Linked DNA regions of Homo sapiens. The protein of the gene in region 2 interacts with the protein of the main gene of each other region in a pairwise test. Each region holds a gene or a part of one and is shown on either strand. Other genes may lie near its edges.

Evidence for each region.
Region 1: the proteins of ARID4B (region 2) and SPANXB1 interact in binary tests that used the Homo sapiens proteins (3 or more experiments, as listed by UniProt).
Region 3: the proteins of ARID4B (region 2) and PRR23B interact in binary tests that used the Homo sapiens proteins (3 or more experiments, as listed by UniProt).
Region 4: the proteins of ARID4B (region 2) and AARSD1 interact in binary tests that used the Homo sapiens proteins (3 or more experiments, as listed by UniProt).

Annotation. Positions count from the first base shown.
Region 1 is NC_000023.11:140,997,665-141,004,224, reverse strand, and holds SPANXB1 (sperm protein associated with the nucleus on the X chromosome B1), read right to left. Parts: upstream 1,632-6,560; 5' UTR 1,532-1,631; coding exon 1,442-1,531; intron 795-1,441; coding exon 573-794; 3' UTR 519-572; downstream 1-518.
Region 2 is NC_000001.11:235,178,143-235,185,181, forward strand, and holds part of ARID4B (AT-rich interactive domain-containing protein 4B), read right to left. Parts: intron 4,652-7,039; coding exon 3,443-4,651; intron 3,043-3,442; coding exon of another isoform or gene 2,951-3,042; exon of another isoform or gene 2,929-2,950; intron 1-2,928. UniProt on the Homo sapiens protein: Acts as a transcriptional repressor. May function in the assembly and/or enzymatic activity of the Sin3A corepressor complex or in mediating interactions between the complex and other regulatory complexes.
Region 3 is NC_000003.12:139,018,500-139,024,786, forward strand, and holds PRR23B (proline-rich protein 23B), read right to left. Parts: upstream 2,428-6,287; 5' UTR 2,163-2,427; coding exon 1,365-2,162; 3' UTR 532-1,364; downstream 1-531.
Region 4 is NC_000017.11:42,950,026-42,954,493, forward strand, and holds the end of AARSD1 (alanyl-tRNA editing protein Aarsd1), read right to left. Parts: intron 3,754-4,468; coding exon 3,699-3,753; intron 1,870-3,698; coding exon 1,775-1,869; intron 704-1,774; coding exon 568-703; 3' UTR 501-567; downstream 1-500. Other genes in the region: PTGES3L-AARSD1 protein, read right to left, coding at 568-703, 1,775-1,869, 3,699-3,753. UniProt on the Homo sapiens protein: Functions in trans to edit the amino acid moiety from incorrectly charged tRNA(Ala).

The DNA.
Region 1 (6,560 bases), on a different chromosome or scaffold from region 2:
TGATTAAACACTGCTGAGGTTATTAAAACAGTAACATAAATATTTAAGATGCAGTGTACATTTTGTTTTAAAATTTGGCTTTTCAATCATTTCATTACATGCAATGCTTTCCTGCCGTTTACTTACTCCTACATCTACTATCTTCTTTTGTATTGTGCTTTGTGTTTTACAGAACATTTACGCTTTATAAAGCATATATTTCTAACCTAGGAAAATATCAAATGGAAAGGGGATGGGAATACCTTTGATATGTCCATTCAGCAGAACTATGTGCTGCCGGGTACAGTTGCGTGAACATATACACATCTCCACTTCCTGTGAGATAAAATTTTAAGAAGAAAATTTTCTTTAGGAATCAGTCCTCCCCCAGGCCTTATTTACAATGTCTGGCTTACTGTCAACCTGTGGGTCTGTCCACCAACCCTACAGGACCTCATATCCCTCCCTTCTCAAATGCCTACCTCTTCCCTTCCCTTCACCCCCCACCATCAGAAAACAGGCAGAGATATACACAGCCATCAGCTTCTCAAACTTTATTTTCATTGCCGAAGTTTGAGGGATGTAGCTTCTTGCTACTTTTTAGGTCTTTCAGTCGTTATTTCTATGAATTCCTCCTCCTCCATTTGGTCGGGGTTGATTCTGTTCTCTCGGGCGTGGTCATTCAGCAGTTCCTCTGGAGATGTTCTTTTCACGTTCCTCCTGTAGCGAACCACTAGTATGGTCGAGGACTCAGATGTTTTCATTTTTTTAGGAGCAGGTTGCGGGTCTGAGTCCCCAGTTGGGGTCTCCGGCATCTGTTAAGAAAACAGGGAGAGGCCAGGAGGACATTATTTTGGGTGAACAGGATAGAGACTGGATAGCAAGGGGGCTTCATGAGAAGAAGGAATGCAGGTTGAGGAAGGGGTTTGATCCAGAGAAGAAGAAGGTTGAAGCACAGAGTAGGGATCTATGGGGAAGAAGAAGAGGAGCGTGGGTAGGGTCACCTGTGAGTCCAAACTGCACCATTTTGTCAGTTCTTTGCTATTTTGCAGACCTTGGTCAAAGTGAAACATCCCATGGGGGTTCAGGCCGTGAGAAACATCCTGCCTAACCACCTGTCCGCAAGGCGGACAAAGGCCCAACTGAAGAAACATCCCTATCATATCTTGCTTGGCAGCGTTCTAAGGAACACCACAATGATATTCCACCAGAAAAAGGGCCAAACCACCTGATCATAAGAACATCTTATCAATATCCTGCCGGGCAGCAAGCCATACTGCCCAGGCCCCTCCCACCCCTACCTACAAGCACCCCAGGTTGTAAGCGGCGGTGGGCTCTGGCATTAAGCGGGCCCCCCACTTCCACAATGGTCTGCAATATTCCTGTGTTGTTGTTTGAGCCGCCCCCGCTCTGTGTGTCTTTCTTTCACCCTCGCCTTCACTTCAGAACCTAACAATCTTACCGTCTTGTTGGCCTCATTGGCCTCGTTGGCCTCGTTGGATTCACAGGGGACGCTCCTCTTCAGCCTGCGGACACTGGATTGTTGGCCCATTGTATATATTGGTTCTTCGATGTCTACAGTAGGTTTTTGGAGCTTTTGAATCTTCGCAGTGGCCCAGAGCTCTTGCCCTCCCTATGCATACCCTCCTGGTGACAAGGCAAAGCCACACCCTTGAGCTTTGTTTGATCATACAGGCAGTGTCCCAGCCAATGGCAGCCCTAGGGTGGCTTCGACGTCACAAAGCCCCACTGCTGACCACTCCCTGGGCTTGCGGGCGAGGGGTGACAGGGGTGTAGAGCAAACCAAATGCTGTTGTTGTTTCAGCATCCCCTGAAGATGCATCCCAAACCGATCTGCCGCCGCTCCTCATTTCTCCATGTTTAATGTTCACGGTTCACATGGAAGTCAGAGGATGATTCCTTCAAGCCCTTCCCCACAGCCATTCCTATTAAGTGATTCATTCTTTTGTCTTCCAGCCCTCACCATGACTTAGTATTTTCGATGTCTCACCTCAAATCCCCCACGCTAGTGTGGCTACATTTATTTATTGGCGGAGATGTGAATTATCCCATTTCCCTCCTACAGTTCCTTCACATGCACCTCGAAGACCATTTACTTTTGGGCTACTGCCAGGCAAATTTCAACCCATGTTCTTTTACCCAATGTCCATGTAGTTCTTTTAAGTTTCCTATCTCCAATCTGAAATAATGGCCTTCAGTCTGTCAAAACTTTAGTGAATAAACATTCTTTACCGTGTATCCTAGTCTTGTTTCAAATCAGGGGTGTATATTTTTTTCTTTTTTTCAAATGGAGTTTCACTGTTGTTGCCCAGGCTGGAGTGCAGTGGCATGATCTCAGCTCACTGCAACCTCTGCCTCCTGGGTTTAAGTGATTCTCTGGCTCAGCCTCCTGAGTAGCTGGGATTACAGGCCTGTGCCACCACGCCCGGCTAATTTTTGTATTTTTAGGAGAGACGGGGTCTCACCATCTTGGCCAAGCTGGTCTTGAACTCCTGACCTCGTGATCCACCTGCCTTGGCCTCCAAAGTGCTGGGATTACAGGCGTGAGCCACCACACCCAGCCAGGACGGCCATTATTAAAACCACCATTGACAAGTAAATTTTGGTTACTTCTGTAGCATACAAGAATTTAACATAAAAGTTATAATTAATAACATACACAAGTTATTTCAGAAGTATAAGAGTTTCCCATAATTTTGGAGCACATATCAATGACATTTCTATAAATACAGCCCAAAGAAAGTCAAACACCATTTTATATTTGATGATGCTTCTTGTATGATTTTTATACCAAATAAGACCAATATGTCTCTTTTGGACTTCAGAGGACTCATATCAAAAAATTAATGAGGAATGAAGTTAGAATTTGACTTTGGAAAGTTCGTCAAAGATAAAAAGTTTAAAATGCTTGATATCACGAAATAGGGTCATGGGTCATTGTAAAATAAGTCATTCATTTAACCAAAGCAGTAACTCAAATGTTTCAAAAAAAAAAAAAGGTGAAAATCTTTATTCTTTGAGAGAGGAGGCTTAATATCCCAAACAATAAGCCCTAATTAAAAACAGGATGCGGCAAATTAAGTTTGTTTTTTTGAAATTGTATAATAAAAGTTTAATCATCTTGAGTATAAAATATAATTTCTATAAACCTTGTAACCTTCATCATTTTGCATGAAGGAGTGAGTTAATGCTCCAAGAAAGCCTTGTTAAACTGACACAGCAACCTAGATACTGGTTTTGCTTTAGTGTGCCTTTGATATTAATGGTTAATTCCTAGAGAAACTGAGCTACTTTTCTCTTAATATCAGCCCTTACAATCTCACATGCCCACCTCTTCCACGATAGTCCTTGGGCCTTGAGGAGTTGAATAGTTTTAATTTCTGGCCCTGCATCTCATGAACGCAGTTTACTTTGATTAGCATCTTCTACTGGGCCTGAAAATGAGGCTGTAATTGCTGTCAGTGTTTAAGATATAGCAGAACTTGGTGTCCTTTTTAGACCCAGAAGTCAAAGCCCTATAACTCAATGGCACAAGGACTTTAAAAGCACATACAGAAAGTTACACAGATGGAAGAAAACACTTTTTTAGACCTTGAAGAAAAAATTTTTGGCCTGTCATAGTGGCTCATGCCTGTAATCCTAGCACTTTGGGAGGCTGAAGCAGGTGGATCACTTGAGGTCAGAAGTTCGAGACCAGCCTGGCCAACACGGTGAAACCCTGTCTCTACTACAAATACAAAAATTAGCCGGGCGTGGTGGCAGGAGAATTGCTTGAACCTGGAAGGGGGAGGTTGCAGTGAGCCAAGATTGTGCCACTGCACTCTCAGCCTGGCTGACAGAGTGAGACCCCACCTCAAGAAAAGAAAAAAGAAATAGAAAAAAAAACATTTTTAGCATGAGGCCACAACAAACAGAACACAAGAGAAAAAAAGAAGAAACTTATATGAGCTGAAAATGAGTTGAAAGAGAGAGTTATTATTTTCACCTTTTAAAAGAGGAGAGTAAACCGAAAATGGTGAGATGTGATAAAAGTTAAACTTTGGGTTTAAAGAATTAAAATCTTTTAATTTATTAAGAGTAAATCAACTCCTTAAGAAAATTTTATTGTTCTGATGAATTTTTTTAGTGTTTTTTTTAATATCATAAGCTAAATCTGGAAAGACTATTATAAATAATTTCCCTTTAATTATAGACAACTTTATACAAATCATTTATGACAGCTTGGACTTTCTGTTTTATCCCTTCCTCTTTCTTTATTCCTTTGAGATACAGTCTTCCTCCGTCGCCCAGGCTAGAGTCGTGCAGTGGCGCCATCTCGGCTCCCTGCAACCTCTGCCTCCCATGTACAAGCAATTCTCCTGCCTCAGCCTCCGGAGTAGCTGGGACTACAGGCACGTGCCACCACACCTGGCTAATTTTTGTATTTTTAGTAGAGACAGGGATTTGCCACGTTGGCCAGGCTGGTCTCGACCTCCTGACCTCAGGTGATCCATCCACCTCGGCCTCCCAAAATGCTGGAATTAACAAGCATGAGCCACCATGCCTAGGCTTCCTTTTTCTTAAATAACCAGTTATTTTATTTTAGAACAAAAATTTACCATACAAGATTCTTGCTCAGATAAAATTATTTTCCTTTTAACTTTTTGTGCCAAAAATGCCTGTTCATAACTTCCTTCACATTGTTTTTATTCACTGATTACCTAATTTCATAAATAACTTTTAGATAAGCTTCGAATTAGACAAAAAGTATTTTCCTTTAAGATCACATTTCTTTTTTACAGAAAAATGTTTTCCTATAATTAAAAAAATTGGAAATGACCCAGACGTGTAATAAATATCTACTATTTAGCTTAATATAACTTTGGATTTTAAATTATATGACAAGATATTCTACAAGAACTTATTCTGTTACATTTGTGTAATTAATTAATTTTCTAATAGTTTACCCAGATTACTTATGAAAACTGTAATAGTTACCATTTAAAGTTATGTCCTTGTTAACCATTTTTATAACCTGTGAATTTCAGGTTGTCCTGAGTAAGAACATTAAGGTTAGATAAAGGGTCTTTTTTTGTTTATTTGTTTGTTTGTTTTTGTTTTTTTGGCAATAACTCAGGATTTAGCTATTTTCATTAACCAAACAATATTAAATTCCTTACTTACTAAATTTTACATAAACAAAGATAATTCTTATTTGAGCTGCATTCATAGCTTTAGAACCCTTATGCCAAATGTTGACATCTAGCAGAGATAAATAATGTATGTTGAGAATTCCAAAGCCATTTCTAATTCAATTTCACTAAAATTTTTAAAACCAGCTTGTTTATTGAAGATTTGCTTAAGTCACATGAACTTGAAAAAGCATTTGGCTTAAAGTCTATTTTTCTGAAAAGCATTAGATTTAAGTGCCTTTGTTAAGCCAATTAATTAGAGCTCTTTTCTACATTTTTAGTAGTGAAATGTCATATCCATGACACATAAATACATAGATGTATTAGACATGTAGATAGAAGTAGATCTTATAAATTCCTAAGGCCTTTATTTTTTCCTTGTATTTTAGATTTACAATTTCTTCATAACCTATTTTATTGCCCTAGGCAATTGTCAGCTAGATAGCCCTAAATGTGCATATTAAAGGAACCCTTAGGTAAAAAAAATCAGATAGTGAAATTTGCTTCTCAAAGCACAGAGAGAAAGAGTCTGGTGATGTTAGAAGGAGATTGAAGATGGATGCCAAATCAAACACAAAATTGTAGAAATATATTATAGGATTGTATAAGGAGACCAGTTGTATTTAGATAGGGACTACCTGTCTTTTAACTGGATCTCTGAGCTCTGGGCAGAGCCCACACTGAATCCTAGTTCTCCAAAAAGGGAGAATTACTATGAGGCTACACCAAGTGATGCTTTTACAGTGTCCTTTTTTTTTTTTTTAACAAAGACATTTCTAAGTGTTCAAGCTACTTTCTTCCTTAAAAATCCAAGAATAAACTAATAACAGTTTTAGTCAAAAAATCAAGTAACACAATACAAAAGCAAGCAGCTTAAGATCTGAGATGAACTTGTGTGTTTACACTCTTGGGAAAAATAGAGGTTTCTCCCCAAAAGGGAGTGTGGCATCTTCTCCATTTTCTTTAAGGAATGCAGGCAATTATAAACTATTTTACGTCCCTCATGCAACAGAGGGTAGCAAAATAAAGGAGAGACAGCAGAAGTAGATGAAGAAAACAGAATGTCATCGTCTGAGAAGAAAAAAAAACTTTTGCTCAAAAAAAGACAAGGTCCTAGGAGAGAAGATGTAGAAAGTAGTAAAGTTTTTCTTCAAAATTCATCTTGGTTTAAAAATAAAATAATAGACACTATAAATAATAGCTCCTTACTCTAAAGCCTCCTCTCAACTACTAGTTCTTACACTTGAGCCCAGTTAGTTGCTTTGGCTTACTCAGGCATGTCTGGACAGGCCCAGGCAAGTCTTAGCTCATAGCTTATGCCCCTTCCTTTTTTGAAATGTTAATTGCTTCCTTAAACCTTTAGTAAGCAACTTCTTTTTCTTCTTTGTT
Region 2 (7,039 bases):
CATCCTTCTTTAAAAAAATCAGATATAAACTGAAAATAGTCCTTAATATAGTACTGGGAGTTTATAAGCCTAGTAATTAAAAGTATATGCTGAAAATAAAAACTGAAATTTGTTAAGATTCAATAAAACCAAAATATTAAGACTTAATCACAGGTTAAAATGTTAATGACATTATGTCTTATAATCATATTAATATAATTTTTAAATGATATAAATGAGGTAAATTTTAGCAGTAATTCATACTTGGTTCTTTTTTACCAATTTATGTCAAGAATAACTAAGCTCCCAGGGCACTGTTTGGTTAACATGCATACCATTTACAAATCCAACATAGTAGTTCTAAAAAACGTCTCATCTTCTTGGTGGGAAATTATTGCAAAACATTACAAATAAATGTCTCCCTTTTCTTCAAGGACTAGCCCAAGTCCTACATCTTCACTAAGATGTTCCAGGCTTCACTGATCAATCACTACTCTGAACTGTAGCATTTTTCTATACTACTCATTTGGTCCTTAACATCTGCTATATTTCTGTCTAATTCATATATGTTATCTCTCAGACTATATAAAGTAAGATTTTTTCTCCAGAGACTAATAAAGTACTATCTCCATTCAGTTCCAATGTCAGACACCAAATCAACCTTCTGTGTATAAAACCTAACTTCCTTGATCAAAAACAGGACAAGTAATTAACTGTCTGCAACTTCCTAGCTTTTTTTTAATGGGTCATATAATCTTACTTACAACTTTTCCTAATACCTTTTTAAATTTTTAATATTTCTTTTTTATTTTTTACACCAAGTATGTGACCCACCTAATGTCATTTTAATATCACAATTTAAGTGAAACATAAAGGAGACGTAGATATTGACCATACTGAAGCACAGAACCATAATTGTCAGGTTTCTCTCCAAGAGAGTTTAATTCTAAAGTGTTCAGATACTAAGAAATAAAAACCTTCAATGTAGAGTAAATTAAGAGGAAAAAACTACATCTAAATAGTAAAACTTAAATTTTAACTTGTGATATAGTGGGGAGTCTCCAATATTCATAGTAAGTAAATTTATTAAAATGTGGCCATGTGAAACAGGTGCTTAAGAACCTATTTCTGGCTGGGCGCGGTGGCTCATGCCTGTAATTCCAGCACTTTGGGAGGCCAAGGTAGGTGGATTACCTGAGGTCAGGAGTTCGTAGACCAGCCTGGCCAACATGGCGAAACCCCATCTCTACTAAACAAAATACAAAAATTAGCCGGGCGTTAATCCCAGATACTCAGCAGGCTGAGGCAGGAGAATCTCTTGAACCTGAGAGGTGGAGGTTGCAGTGAACCAAGATTGCACCACTGCACTCCAGCCTGGGCAACAAGAGCAAAACTCTATGTCTCAAAAAAAAAAAAAAAAAAAAAAAAAAAACCCAACAAAAAGAAAAACACCAATTATTTCTAAAGAGATATAAATTACCCTAAATTTAGGAGTAGCTTTCAAATTCCACAATTATTAACCTAGTCAAGATTAAGATTCAAAAGGGCAGTGTTGACTTAGTCTATTAGCAGAGAAGATATCCTCTTTTTTTTTGTTGTTAATTTTAATCTTTTGTAAGATATTACGAACATAATAAGGATACAACCTCTTAAAAACTACAACAATAGGCTAGGCACGGTGGCTCATGCCTGTAATCCTAGCACTTTGGGAGGCCAAGGCAGGCAGATCATGAGGTCAAGAGATAGAGACCATCCTGGCTAACATGGCGAAATGCCATCTCTACTAAAAATACAAAAAATTAGCTGGGCATGGTGGCACACGCCTGTAGTCCCAGCTACTCAGCAGGCTGAGGCAGGGGAATCACTTGAACCCAGGAGACGGAGGTTGCAGTGAGCCCAGATCACACCACTGCACTCCAGCCTGGGCAACAGAGCGAGACTCCATCTCAAAAAAAAAACCCCCAAGAAAACCTATAACAATAAAACCTGTTTTTTTCTTTCTTTTCTTGTTTTTTCTTTTTTTTTTTTTTTTTTTTTTGAGACAGGGTCTTGTTTTATCACCCAGGCTGGAGTGCAGTGGCGTGATCTTGGCTCACTGCAGCCTTTCCGGGATCAAGTGATTCTCCCTCATCAGCCCCCAAGGTAGCTGGGACTACAGGCATGCGCCACCACAGCTGGCTGACGTTTGTATTTTTGGTAGAGATGGGGTTTTGCCATGTTGTCCAGGCTGGTCTTGAACTCCTGGACTCAAGCGATCCACCGCCTTGACCTCCCAGACCTCCCAAATTGCTGGGATTACAGGTGTGAGTGACCACACCTGGCCAGTAAAATCTTACTGTTGAAAGCCTAATATTCTGAAATAAAGGATTCTTTCATTTTGAAGATTAGTCATGCCTGGATAGTTCAGTTGCATGAGATAGTATGGCACAGATAAAATCATAGTAGTTATACTTGTAAATGTGAAAAAAAGCAAAGAACATTTCAATTTAATTGCAAGTATTTTTTTAATTTATTTTAAAACAGAAATGTTTTAAGTCAAGATTCCTGAGAAAACATAGAATTAACTAATTTGATCTAGACCATATCTCTTTAAGCTTTGCTGAAAACCTAAAGCTAGCATTCTAAAATCTTTTACGGTATATAAAAAACATACTCCAGTGCTCTGTCTTTACGATGGAAAAGTGTGTTCCAAAGCCAGGTGTCAGCCTAGAGTATACTGATTTAAAGATACCTGAATGAAGTGGTTTATAAGAAAAATGATGACAGAAGTATGGCTATGGCACCATCGAAAGGCACTAATACTTTGGGAAGGTACCGATTTGAATTTCCACTTTTAACAATTTCACGGAAAATCAAAAAAGTATTACTGTAGGTTATTAACGTACACATTGGTCCTTCAATTTGGAAGCTATGCATCTAAGAAAGCATCAAATTCCTTTACAAACTCACACAAGTTAGTCAGGCTTGAAAATCAGTTTGACACGGTTGTCTGAGGAAAGCAGTGCCTGGACAGTTGGTTGCTCCAAACCCCTACATACAGTATTTGGTTAAGGGTGGAGGGGTCTGTCAATAAATCAAAATGTTCGTGAGAAACTGCACATTACAATTGCAAAAACAATGTTACAGAAATAGATTTAAGCTGCTCATGCCATATAGTCAACCACTGCATATAATGAATTCTCAAACAGGTTTGGATTTGGGCCTGGGTGCAATTTCTAGCATGTGTTCTGGTCCACAATAAAATGCCATGGATGGCTCAAGCAAAGCACATTAAAGCCTTCTCAAGCTTTTAAATGCATTCCACTATTCATTTTCAAATTACCTTTAAAATTTCCATTTTTACCATGTTCACACAAATATGACACTTAATCGCCTCAGGTTATAACAAGAGATACTGTGAAATCATTGAAACTTTAAGAGGGGAAACCCTAAAATAAGTCAACATACACATTTTCCTTCTCACCTTTTTCAGGATGTTCTGGTTCTGGCTGATTACTACTGCTTGAGCTCACACTGGCATCAAAACCTGCTGGCGAGCTATTCCCTTCAGACTGGAGGTCTTGGAGCTCCCCAGCAACACTATCCACCTCAATTGTGCTATCAGTTTCACTCTTGATACTTCGAACCTCTTCTTGGTTTGGAGCCAGTGGTTCTGATACTGTTACAGAAGACTGCTGCCGGCTGCCTTCTGTTACAGTGACTGATGAAGGCGATTCAGGTGTAGTAGGAGGGGTATTTAGCACTGAATTACTGCCACTACTTGGAAATTCTGCTTTTCTGTCATTGACCTCTACTGTTTTTTCTTCAATGGGTTTACTATCGACATTGACTGGAGGTGGTTTTTCTAGTTCTACACTGGGTGAACAACTCTCCTCTTCAGCCACAGTCTGCAGTGACTCCTCTGCCACCCCCTCCTCTGGGGCAGGATGCGGTGGGGAAGCTGCAGCCTCAGTATCAGAGTCTGAAAAAAGCTCTTTCAGCGTTTTTTTAGGCCACTGTCCCTGAATACTTGACCAGACATCTTTTCGATCTTTGGCCCTGCTGTTTTGAAGTCTTTCATCAGAGTTATTTAAAAGTTTAATCCTTTTTTCTGCCACTTCTGAAAATCCTGAATAGAAACCAGTTGTCCGTAGAGATTTTCTTTTTTCCTCCAAACCATTGTATTTCTTAGTTGGTGTCATCTTTGCTTTTGTTTCTTCTTCATCTTCATCTGAAGAGCTGTTGCTACTGTTTTCCATGCAAAGTGATTCTTTGTTCTTGGCCTTCTCTTCCTTTTTGCCAGGTGATCCAGTTTTTAGACACTCTTCTGTATTGCAATACCTTCTTTTACCACGTTTTATTTGTGGTTTTGAAGATTTATCTGTTGTGTCCTTCTTGACATCCTTTCTCTTTTTTGTGACTTCATCTTCTTCATAATCAGTATCTTCGGATAATACTTCTATATCTTTCCTTAATCTTTCTGGAGATTTTGACACTGGTTTGGATATTACCAAATCTGCATGAACTTTGTTTTCTTCTAGCAAAGATGAACTGTTCTGTTCCTCCTTTGAAATAAGATCATTTCTGTTGTTGGTCAAATGATCAATCTTAGATTCCTCTTTGCCATTATTATCCATGTCTTGAGCACCTCTCTCATCTTCCTGCTCACTGTCTTCAGCAGAACTTTCAGAAGCTAGAAAATAACAGAAAAAAAAATGATGAGTATGATAAGAACACTAGCAATGTCTTCTATGTGCCAGGGACTGTATATATTAGGTCCTGTGTATACAGCCACCCGAGGTTGCTGGCTTTTATCTCTATGTAACATGCAAAGAAACTGGGTTTCAAAGAGGCTAAGAGGCTCTTCCAATGATGGAAATGTTCTATTACGATCACGGTGATGGTTGTAACACTGTATACTTTTGTCAAAACCCATCACATTTTAAACATAAAAGTCATCACTTTTATGTAAACTGTACCTTAATAAAGCTGAAATAAAAAAGAAAAAAGCTTCTCCAAGTTTATATAAGTATAATATTTTTATCATAATATATCTGAGAAAATAGTGGAGTCAGGATATAATCCCAGATTGTGCTACCTCCAAGTTAATATTCTTCTTTTTTTTTTTTTGAGTCTCACTTTGTCATCCAAGCTAAAAGTGTAAGTGGCGTGATGTCGGCTCACAGCAAGCTCTGCCTCCTGGGTTCACGCCATTCTCCTGCCTCAGCCTCCTGAGCAGCTGGGACTACAGGCGCCCACCACCACGCCCGGCTAATTTTTTGTATTTTTAGTAGACACGGGGTTTCACTGTGTTAGCCAGGATGGTCTTGATCTCCTGACCTCGTGACCCGCCCTCCTCGGCCTCCCAAAGTGCTGGGATTACAGGCGTGAGCCACCACGCCTGGCCCCAAGTTTATACTCTTATGAAACTATAGCCTTCATTTTTCTTTTCATCAGAGACGGTCTCACTCTCTCATCCAAGCTGGAGTGCAGTGGCACAATCACAGTGCACTTCAGCCTCAAACTCCTAGGCTCAAGAGATCCTCCCACCTCAGATTCCTGAGTAGCTGGGATCACAGGAGCAAGCTACTGCACCTGGCCTCTCATTTTTCTTTCCTTTGTTTTGTTTTGTTTTATTTTCTTTCCCTCCCTGCCTCCCTTCCTTTCTCTTTCCTTTCTCTTTCTTTATTTCTCTCTCTCTCTCTATTTTTTTCTGAGACAGGGTCTTACTCTGTTCCCCAGGCACTATCATGGCTCACTGCAGCCTCAACCTCCTGGGCTCAAATGATCCTCCCACCTCAGCCACCCAAGTAGCTGGGACTACAGGTGTGCCACATCCAGTGAATTTTTGTATTTTTTGTAGAGACAGGGTCTCGTCATGTTGCCAAGGCTGGTCTTGAACTCCTGAGCTCTAGCAACCTGCCTACCTCAGCCTTCCAAAGTGCTGAGATTAAAGGCATGAGCCACCACACCTGGCCAGCTTCATTTTTCAATGTAATAATGAATATCCAATAATTTTGTAATCAATGATTTCCATGATGTTTTAAAGAATAGATATAATTAATTTTAGTTACTGATAACTTATGTAAAATTAATTATGGAACTTACTGCTTCAGTGTGTTCATTCTGGTAAATCATTTTATTGTTATTTTAAGATAACATTTCCTGAGAACTTACTACATGCTGGTTACTTTTGATACACTTTGAACAGACCATCTCATTCAATCCTCAGAACAATGCTACGAGATACATGTTATCAGCCCCACTTTATAGTTCAAGAGACTAGGGTCTTAAATAAATAAGAAAAACAAACAAACAAAAAGCAACACAACAAAACAAAGCAAAAAAAAAGGGACTGGGGTTTAGAGGTTAATCTACCCCCCAAGGTAGTTAAATCTAAGTCATTTAACTCCAGAACTTACAACCTTAACTATAGCTCTCTACTGAGAAATCCATGCATGTTCTTTAGCTAAATTCATTAAATGTAAAACATAACTGACATAACTAAGATTGTGAAACCATTTCACCTTTACAATGTGTGTCTGCATGGCCACATTTTTTAAATTATCAAAACAATACATATACATCATTAAAAACAAATCTAGACTCATAATGAAAAACCAAAAAGAGGATAAAAATCTGTTTTTCCACCTCCAAAGTGTTAACATCTGATAGTTATAGTCATCTCTTACTATTCATAATATACTATTTGTTTTATTTATTTTTTTGTGTGTGTGACGGAATCTCACTCTGTCACCCAGGCTGGAGTACAGTGGTGTGATCTCAGTTCACTGCAACCTCCTCTTCCTGGATTCAAGCAATTCTCCTGCCTCGGCCTCCCAAGCAGCTGGGACTACAGGCACATGCCACCATGCCCAGCTAATTTTTGTATTTTTAGTAGAGATGAAGTTTCATCATTTTAGACAGGCTGATCTCGAACTCTTGACCCCAAGTGATCTGCTCATCTCAGCCTCCCAAAGCACTGGGATTATAGGCATGAGCCAACGTCCCTGGCCTGCTGACTTATTTATAAAGTTTATCCTCTATGAGCAATGGGGATTCTTACTTATCAACACCCATA
Region 3 (6,287 bases), on a different chromosome or scaffold from region 2:
GGGATGTTGAAGCTTCAGTGAGCCGTGATTGCACCACTGCACTCCAGCTTGGGCGACAGAGTGAACCCTGTCTTAAAGTCTTTCTCTCTCTACACACACACGCACACACACACACACACACACACACACACGAACAGCCAAATTACATATAAAAGGACTAACAACTTGATTGACAGAAGACATCCTGCAACAACAAAAAATGGCAAAACAACGGGCTAATATCTTTAAAGTACTGTAGTTAAATATCATTTTAAAATTAAGAATGAAGGTGTAATTAAAACATTTACAGTCAATTCTAAGAAAGTTTATCACACAAAAACATGCTCAGACTTACAGAAGCAAGATAGTTTATCACACGTAAGACACAGTGGAAAGAAATATTAAAGGATATTCTTCACAAAAAGAAAACTGAAGCTACAGTGAAGGAGTGGAATGTAAGAATAAAAATGTAGGAAATAATTGGTAAGGCATAGTGGTAGATCTGAATAGTTATTGATGTTTTTAAATAAAATAAAACCAGCTTGTTGACATCAGCTTTACCAGTAATCTTTTATCTCCTATATAAAAATATGAGGCAACTACAGTAATAAACTAACATTTTAAAAGTTAGAAGTTTGGTTTACATGAGAAAAAACTCAGGGTAGATTTTAAAAGGTATAAAATAATGTGGAATAGCAGGAATGCAAACACTTTCCATTGGGTGAAATCACCAGATTAACAAATTAAAAAAAAATACATAACACAATGCATGCTGAAAACATCTGATAAAATTCAACACAAATTTTCATTTAGAATTAGAAGACTAGAAGAAAACTTCAGCAGGATAAGGGGTTCCTAGGAAGAAGCAACATACAGTCTTGTATAGTAAGCATACTATTTGGCAGTTTCCTTGGAGAGCAGTTGGAAAAACCCCAAGAAAAGCCATGGCTAAGTCTTCCAAAATTCATGGGAAAAAAATGCAAGGTAACTAACAACGTAAGAGATCTGGTGATTTCTTGGTTTGGGGAGAAACGGGAGTGGCAGTATGATGCTGGAGAAAGACTGGAATTTGAGAGAAACAACTGATGCAAAACGAGGGAGAATGAAGGGATCTGAATATGACCTTGTAAAGAAGCCCAGAAATCTGGACACATTTTCTGGTATCCTTGCGCAGATTTTCTATTTAAAGATGAGGTCTAGAATATACCTTTTCTTGCTGACGTCTTCATCTCCTACTATCGGTAGTGTGCAGCGAAAAAGCAATTGTCCGAACACGCGGTGCCCAATTTCCAGGTTGTTGGATACTCAATGTGAGAGATTCCCGCAATCCTAGAGGGCCTCCAGCAGAGCGGCCAGGATTGTTGTGTGTACGTGGGGGTGGGGGTCTATGCCTGGAACAGGCGTCTCCGGGCCTTGCACGGAGGGCGTTCCGGGAGCGGCGAGCGCGCGTGGGGACCTGGACTCCCCACGCACGGAGAGGGAGGTAGAGGTTGGAGAGGTGAGCTGGGGACAGGCTCCAGAAGGCGGAATTCCAGGTCAAAGATGGGGCGTGGAGAACGTCTCTCTGAACTGGGGTTGGGGGCCAGAGCACAGGGTTCTGGGATGGGGCCCTCCCGGTAGGGGATGAACATACTTCTAGAGGAGGGGTAGAGCCCAGCGGCTGAGCCGGTTGGGGAGTCCATCCGGAGCTCCGGGAACTCGGGGTCCGCGTCCTCCTCGTAGGCCTCTTCCTGGGCGGCGATCTCTGGGACAGATGCGCAGAATTCCAGCTCGACGACGACGTCCTCCCTGACAGCGCCCAGGAAAACGTCCACTTCCAGCCCGGCAGACGAGTCGTGCTGCGCTCCTGAGCGTTCGTCGACGGAGCTCAGGAGGACCTCTGGGATCAGGATGAGGGTGTGTCCACCGAGAGACACTCGCAGGATCGACGTTGGTGCGGGCTCCAGCACCAGGTCGACGTCGTCCAGGGGCACACGCAGGGCACAGCCCGCGGCCAGGACCACTATGGAGGTGAGCGCGTCCACGGCCGGGTCCCCCGCCGGGTCTTCCAGGCTGGGTGCCGCGCGGGGTTCGGGGCCCGCGGGCTCCTCCAATCGGAGGCGCTTGGCAGGGCCGGGTCCTCCTGGCTGCTGTCCCCACCAGGGAGCAGGGAAGGCGCTGGGGCTGCGGGGCCGGCTGACCATCGCCTCGACGGCGCTGTGGACGGCGCTCCTGGGCCTAGCAGCGGACGTGGGGAGCGCGGCGGTGAAGTCCTCTTTGAAGTAACAGATGTCGGTGGTAGGGGAGGCTGGTTGGGACGAGCGGGGCGCAGGACCGCGCGACGCGGGGCGAGTCCTCGGAGCTCCCGGGGCGCCTCCTGGGGGACCGTAGTCTGGGCTGCTGGTGGTGCCTCGCCGGCCACCGGGCTCAGCTTAGCTCGTTGGACCCTTGGGCCTTCCTGATGCAGACCCGGATGCGCACTGCAAAGCCAATTATGTTGTAAATGACGGCAGCGGAACCGAAGTCGCAAAATGTCACGCAATGCTCCGCCCCCTGGAGGACCCGCTCTAGAGGCGGAGGTATCCGTGCTGTCCAGTATCCGTGGCTATAATTGGTCGGACACGCTGGGGAAATACTCTTACAGGCCTCTAGGGGGCAGAATGATCAGTATAACTTATTCAGAAAAAATGATAACAACTGTAATAGAATTTCAAAGATGGCTCGCCTTTAGAACTCATGTTTTCTTGTGATTTCAGGGATTCTAGAGAAAAGACCACTCAGATCTCTCCGACCCATCCAAATGCTACATACAATTCCTTTAATGCTACTAAATTATTTCATTTTAGGAGTATTCAGAAAATACAGATTTCTACTTGGGAAAATTGATTTTAAAATTCTGAGTGAAGCTGGGAGTGGTGGCTCACGCTTGTAATCCCAGCACTTTGGGAGGCTGAGGAAGGCTGATCGCTTGAGCCCAGGAGTTCAAGACCACTCTGGGCAACATGGTGAGACTCGGTCCCTATGAAAAATTTAAAAATTCAAAAATTAGCCTGGCGTGGTGGTGCGTACCTGTGGTCCCAGCTATTTGGGAGGCTGAGATGGCAAGATCGATGGAGCCCGGGAGGTCAAAGCTGGAGTGAACCGTGGTGGTGCCACTGCACTCCAGCCTGGGCAACAGAGTGAGACCCTGTCTAAAAAAAAAAAAAAAAAAAGTGAAACATTTGTGAATAGTTTCATCCTGAAAGTTAAAAAGTTATAAAATTATTAATCATATTAAAATTTAAAACAATATTAATAAAATTATTTTTTTTTCTTTTTTTTTTTTTTTTTGAGACAGAGTCTCGCTCTGTCGCCCAGGCTGGAGTGCAGTGGCGCGATCTCGGCTCACTGCAAGCTCCACCTCCTGAGTTCACGCCATTCTCCTGCCTCAGCCTCCCGAATAGCTGGGACTACAGGCGCCCACCACCGCGCCCGGCTAATTTTTTTTGTATTTTTAGTAGAGACGGGGTTTCACCGTGTTAGCCAGGATGGTCTCGATCTCCTGACCGCGTGATCTGCCCGCCTCAGCCTCCCAAAGTGCTGGGATTACAGGCGTGAGCTACCGCGCCTGGCCGTATAAAATTAATTTTTAAATTGAACACTTATATTTCCATGATTCTTGAATTTTTTTTTTTTTTTTGACAGAGTCTGACTCTGTCTCCCAGGCTGGAGTGCAGTGGTGCAATCTCAGCTCACTGCAGTCTTGGCCTCCCAGGCTCTGGTGATCCTCCCACCTCAGCCTCCGGAGTAGCTGGGACTACAGGCCTGTGCCACCATACTGGCTATTTTTTTTTGTATTTTTAGTAGAGGCAGGGTTTTGCCATGTTGCCTAGGCTGGTCTTGAACTCTTGGGCTCAAGCGATCCTCCCTCATCGGCCTCTCAAAGTGCTGGGATTACAGGTGTGAGTCACTGCATCTGACCTGAGCTTTTTTTTTTGAGACGGAGTCTCACTCTGTCGCCTAGGTTTGAGTTAAGTGGCACGATCTTGGCTCACTGCAACTTCCGCCTCCCGGGTTCAAGCCATTATCCTGCCTCAGCCTCCCGAGTAGCTGGCAGTACAGGCACTTGCCACCACGCCTGGCTAATTTTTGTATTTTTAGTAGAGACGAGGTTTCATCATGTTGGCCAGTGTAGTGTCAAACTCCTGACCTCAAGTGATCCGCCTGCCTCGGCCTCCTAAAGTGCTGGGTGCTGCGGTTACACCGTGCCCAGCCCTGAGTTTTTTTTTTTTTTTTTTTTGAGACAAAGTCTTGCTCTTGTCCCCCAGGCTGGAGTGCAATGGCGCGATCTCAGCTCACTGCAACCTCCGCCTCCCGGGTTCAAGTGATTTTCCTGCCTCAGCCTCCCAAGTAGCTGGGATTACAGGGACTTACCACCATGCCCGTCTAATTTTTGTATTTTTAATAGAGAGGGGGTTTCACCTTGTTGGCCAGGCTGGTTTCGAACTCCTGACCTCAGGTGATCCACCCGCCTCGGCCTCCCAAAGTGCTGGGATTACAGGCGTGAGCCACCATGCCCTGCCAGTCCTGAGTATTTTAAAAACGATCTTCTTCATTCTTCACAACACCTGAGGCTCAGTGGTAAAGCAAATTTTTCTTAAAAAAATAATTAAAAAAATTTGTGTGGGTATATAGTAGAGGTATATATTTATAGGGTACATAAGATGTTTTGATACAGAAATGCAGTGTGAATAAGCACATTATAGAAAATGGGGTATCCATCTCCTCAAGCATTTATCCTTTGAGTTACAAACACACCAGTTACACTCTTTAAGTTATCAAATAGTAGGTCTTATTCATTCTTTGTGTTTTTTTTTTGTATGCATTAACCATCCTCACTTCCCTGGTAAAGCAAATTTTTCAAAATCAAATACCCAGGTTGTGTTGGATGTGGGAATCAAATGCACAGATATAGCTGGCTTTAAATCAAAGACTCTTTCCTGACACTTTTATGAGGAAAGTAGGAGTAGATCACTAATTGGTACTGTGTATGCCTTTCAAATTAACAGGTAATACCCCTTTCCCCATTCTTTTTTCAAAATGGCTTTCCCTGCTTACATTCACGTGAGCAGAGTATGTTTCCATTTCACTAAATCTTTGCAAGCATTTCTTATTGCCACATTCTTAAATCTTTTTCAAGCTATTGTAGTAAAATGCTATTTCATTTTGCATTTCTGATTACCAATAAAGTGAACCATTTTTCCTTTTTTTAAATTATACTTTAAGTTCTAGGGTACATGTGCACAACGTGCAGGTTTGTTACATATGTATACATGCGCCATGTTGGTGTGCTTCACCTATTAACTCGTCATTTACATTAGGTATATCTCCTAATGCTATCCCTCCCCTCTCCTCCCAGCCCTTGACGAGCTCCGGTGTGTGATGTTCCCCTTTCTGTGTCCAAGTGTTCTCATTGTTCAATTCCCACCTATGAGTGAGAACATGTGGTGTTTGGTTTTTCTTTCTTGCGATAGTTTGCTGAAAATGATGGTTTCCAGCTTCATCCATGTCCCTACAAAGGACATGAACTCATCCTTTTTTATGGCTAAAGTGAATCATTTTTTCATATGCTTATTTACTATTCTTGTATCTTCTTATTTGAAATGCTCCTATCTTCTATTTTTTTACTTTTAAAAAACTCAGGTTCACAATATTGTATACCAGTTATTCATCAGATATATGTGTAGCAAATATCTCTGTCATTCTCCCACAGTTTTTGAAGACATTAGCACCTGATTCACTATTATTCCCAGCCGATCTACTTCTGATGTAATTTGTGGTAATTTTAATGTTTTCATAGATTTTTCCCCCTGAAGTCCTAGCCTCTTAGTTCACAATTTTGTTCTGCCTCCTACCTCACTGACTCATACCCTTGACTTTGTTGTTACCCCAAGTTGTAATCCCTTTATAATCACAATTTCAACATTTTATTCTCACAGCACCACCTTCTAACTTTCTAATTCAGTTTTAAAAAATATCCAAATCTATCCATTTTTCATTCTCTCTGGAAAAATCCTTTTATCCTACCATCTTTTAATGGAAACTGATATCATCAGGTTCTCACTTCCCTCTTTACTGGGAACTTAAATTCCACGGACAGCCTTGATAATCATTGTCATATTTATATCTTCAACTTTCTTTCCTGTCTACTGCTTTGCTGGTTAAATCTATCTGCCTACTCAGTGCCCTTACTTGTATGGCTGAATGTGTCTGGAGAAAAACACTCAATCTCTTTGAATAGTCTCACTTTATAATCATGATCACCAACCTCCAGTGGGTTCCTAATGCTG
Region 4 (4,468 bases), on a different chromosome or scaffold from region 2:
TCGCACCACCGCACTCCAGCCTGGTGACAGAGCGAGACTCCATCTCAAACAAAAACAAAAAACAAAAACAAAAAAATCAGCCAGGCATGGTGGCACACACCTGTAATCCTGGCTACTCTGGAGGCTGAGGCAGGAAAATCCCTTCAACCCGGGAGGCAGAGGTTGCAGTGAGCTGAGATCACACCACTATATCCAGCCTGGGCAACAAAGCAAGAGTCCATCTCAGGGGGTGGGGCGGTAGGGGCGGGAAAAAGCCATGTGCCTTTGTGGATTATAACAAAATTATGGGAGCAGTGGACTCAGCTGATCAGATGTTCATTTCTTATCCAACTGAGTGCAAAAGCACAAGGTTTGGTATAAATTAATCCACCACCTTCTAAACATTACAGTGCATGAACTAAATTAGAAAATTATCTATTTATAAACGGAAAGTAACCACACAAGCACAATGGAGTATACAGTACGAATTAGTCATATAAATACAAGTGGTAGCGCAACCATTCTGAGTCAATCTATTTTATTGACCAAAAGATTCCTGTGGAAACAGGAGGTGAGTGCCCTAAGCCCTCACTCCTTAGCACTCTGCGTGCTGATGTAGTCCTGGAGAAGCGCCTGCGCCTCCATCCGCCGGCTCATCTTGGTGGCCTTGCCCTGAAAACGGCCTTTCTTCCCTGCTCCTTTGCCTTCCAGGACCTCAGCCACCCTGGGGAACAGAGGTATAGTCAGGGAGACTTTGAGGGAAAAGTCACAAAAAAAAACAAGGGCAGCTCTGAGTCTTTTTCCAGGGACTGGGAGAGGGATAAGAAGAGTAGATGACTTCTAGGAATCTTTCTTGAAAACACTTGCACATAGGCTGGGCATGGTGGCTCACACCTGTAATCCCAGCACTTTGGGAGGCCAAAGTGGGTGGATCACCTGAGGTCAGGACTTCAAGACCAGCCTGACCAATAGGATGAAACCCCGTCTCTACTAAAAATAAAAAAATCAGCCGGGCATGGTGGTATGCGCCATAATCCCAGCTACTCAGGAAGCTGAGACAGGAGAATTGCTTGAACCCGGGAGGCAGAGGTTGCAGTGAGCCGAGATGGTGCCATTGCACTCCAGCCTGGGCAACAAGAGTGAAACTTTGTCTCAAAAAAACACTTGCACATATGCACAAAGATATATGTACCATCATCACATAAGAGTGAATAACTGGAAACAACATCAGTGTCTATGAATTGGGCTAGATAAATTATGTTAATCTCCAGAGAGCAGGGTGAGCACCTGTAATCCCAGCACTTTGGGAGGGCAAGGCAGGTGGATCACTTGAGGTCAGGAGTTCGAGACCAGCCTGGCCAACATGGTGAAACCCTATCTGTACTAAAAATACAAAAAATTGGACGGGTATGGTTATGTGCACCTGTAATCCCAGCTACTTGAGTGGCTGAGGCAGGAAAATTGCTTAAACCTGGGAGGTGGTGGCTGCAGTGAGCTGAGTAGCCTGGGCTCTCCAGGCTGGGCAACAGACTAAGACTCCATCTCAAAAAACAAAAACAAACACATTTCATAAAAACAAAAACAAAAACATACATGTGAGATGTGGAGCCAAAAGACCTTCAACTGTCAAACTGGAAATGACAGTAGTAATAATTATCTCTGCTCAGCCCACCTCACATGCCCATGATGTGAATTAAATGAGATCGCAGATGTGATGGTCCTTTGACTCAGTAAAGGAATGTATTTGTAGGATACAGGCTCTACTACATGTGCAAGAGAGTCCACAAAGAATTACCTGGGCCCCAGGGTCTCCACAGACGCAGGTGGCCCTGCCAGTAAGAAGAGTCCACCACCTTTCTCATCGCCCACAGTTAAGAACAGGAGGGTCTCCTAGGAGGTAAGACAAGGAGATAAGCTCTGATACTGAAGGATGTAGAGTCAACCCCCCAAATCCTGCACTCTCTTCAATCTTAAGAATAGATTATTTCCCCCTAAACCACCAAGTGACGCTCCTGATGAATGATGATACAGCCCCTCCACACTGGCCCACGAGGGCCAAGAAACTTTTTGAGAGCAACTATGGGAACTTAGGTGAAACATTAAGAAGGCAGCAGAAGACTGCTGATCCTGGCTAAGCAGAAAATGCCTTTCATGGTTTCACTCTTGCAAACTTTTCCCCACCACACATCCTTTCCCTGCCACTGCCTAAACCACCAGGTTTCCCTCTGCCTGGCCGCCTCTGCCCCTTGTCTGTCTGATGACCTCTAAGCAGTCTTCAAGGGCCCCTCCCCTGAAACCTCCCTATCCTTCAGGTAATGTGCTCCTCCACCTCTAGCATTCATCACTCTATCATTCTGAATTATAAATGTCGACATACATATTTGTCTCCCAGACTAGAATATGAGCTTCTTGAGAATCAGTTCTGTCTATACAGAAGAATTATGAAAAGAGAGATACACAACGCTTTACCCACAGTAGGCATTCCAAAGAAGGGTTCTGGAGTAAATACAAAAGAGATAGTGGGGCATGGTGGCTCATGCTTGCAGTCCCAACTACTCAGGAGGCTGACGTGGGAGGACTGCTTGAGCCCAGGAGTTCAAGACTGCAGTGAGCCATAATCACGCCACTGTACTCCAGCCTGGGTGACAGAGCAAGACTCTGTCTCTGAAAAAAACAAACAAACAAACAAACAAACAAAAGACCTGGAAATCTCTAGGCTAGAGACCATCAGGAGTGGGAAGAGTAAGTAAAGCCAGAGGAAGAGGAAAATGGACGGGGATGGCTTTCAAAGGGGCTTGCCCACTCCTGTATTTACTTTTTTTTTTTTTTTTTGGAGACAGTCTGTGTTGCCCAGGCTGGAGTGCAGTGGCGCAATCTCGGCTCACTGCAACCTCAGCCTCCAGGGTTCAAGCAATTCTCCTGCCTCAACCTCCCAAGTAGCTGGGTCTACAGGCACCTGCCACCACACCCAGCAAATTTTTGTCTTCTGTTTTGAGACAGAATCTCACTCTGTAGCCCATGCTAGAGTGCTGTGGCACAATCTCAGCTCACTGCAACCTCTGCCTACCAGGCTCAAGAGATTCTCATGCCTCAGCCTCCCGAGTAGCTGGGATTACAGGCGCATGCCACCACGCCTAGCTAATTTTTTGTATTTTAGTAGAGATAGGGTTTTACCATGTTGCCCAGGGTGGTCTCGAACTCCTGAGCTGAGGCAATCCACCCGCCTCAGCCTCCCAAAGTGCTGGAATTACAGGCGTGAGCCACCATGCCTGGCCTGATTTTTCTATTTTTAGTAGAGATGGGGTTTCACCATGTTGGCTAGGCTGGTCTCCTGATCTTAAGTGATCCACCCACCTTGGCCTCCCAAAGTGCTGGGATTACATGCGTGAGCCACCGCGACCAGCCCACTGATATATTTCTAATATTGGATCCCCAGCACACATAAACCTGAATGGCTTTGAGGAGCTAGAGCTCTGATGAAAGGAGCTCAGAAGCTAATAAACATCACAGCCCCAGAGAGAGCAATAACATAGATCTAGCTCAACACCTAAAACAGAGCTTGGCATATAGCTAGTACTAAGAAAACAGTATTGAATGAATGGCTATTTCCTCCTCCTCATGTGTTCATGTGGAGGGACTTTGGCTAAACTAGCGCCCCTCACTTATGTCTCCCTAGGTCTCTATCCAGGCCGGGGTAGAGAATCTCATGCTCCTCTTACCTCTGACCCAATCTCATTGGCAATGATATTCATGAACTCTGAATCACCCTCCTTCCTACAACAAAGGACACAGACATGAGACCCAGGTTGGAGTGGTGGCTGTGAAACTGCAGGAAGCCTGGCCCCTCCTTCTGAGGCTGGCCTTGCTGCCTATGTACACATAAAGTCCCATATCCCTTAGCCAAGAGAGAGTACTGGCTGAAAGCCAGCAAGCTGCCCTTCTCAGCCTCTGCAGTTTGTAATCAACCTCCAGGTTTGTTTCCATCTCCCTTAAATAGGATTCACCAGGATAAGCAGAAATCTGTTAGAGAGTAAAGGAGGTAGGGGACAGTCCTAAAGAAAGATACAGGCTGGACACAGTGGCTCACACCTGTAATCTCAGCACTTTGGGAGGCCAAGGTGGGCAGATTGCTTGAGGTCAGGAGTTCAAAACCAGCCTGGCCAACATGGGGAAACCCCAGCTCTACCAAAAATACAAAAGTTAGCCTGGTGTGGTGGCACATGCCTGTGATCCCCCAGCTACTCGGGAGGCTGAAGCACGAGAACCGCTTGGACCCAGGAGGCACAGGTTACACTGAGCCGAGATCATGCCACTGCACTCCAGACACACTAAGACTCCATCTCAAAAAAAACACAAAAAACAAAAGATACAGAGTTACAGTAAATATGTTAATATCAAACCCAGGAGGCCTGGTATGTAACATATTTCTTTTTTTTTTTATATTTTTGAGATGGGGTCTCACTCTGTTGGTCCAGGCCGGAGTGCTGTG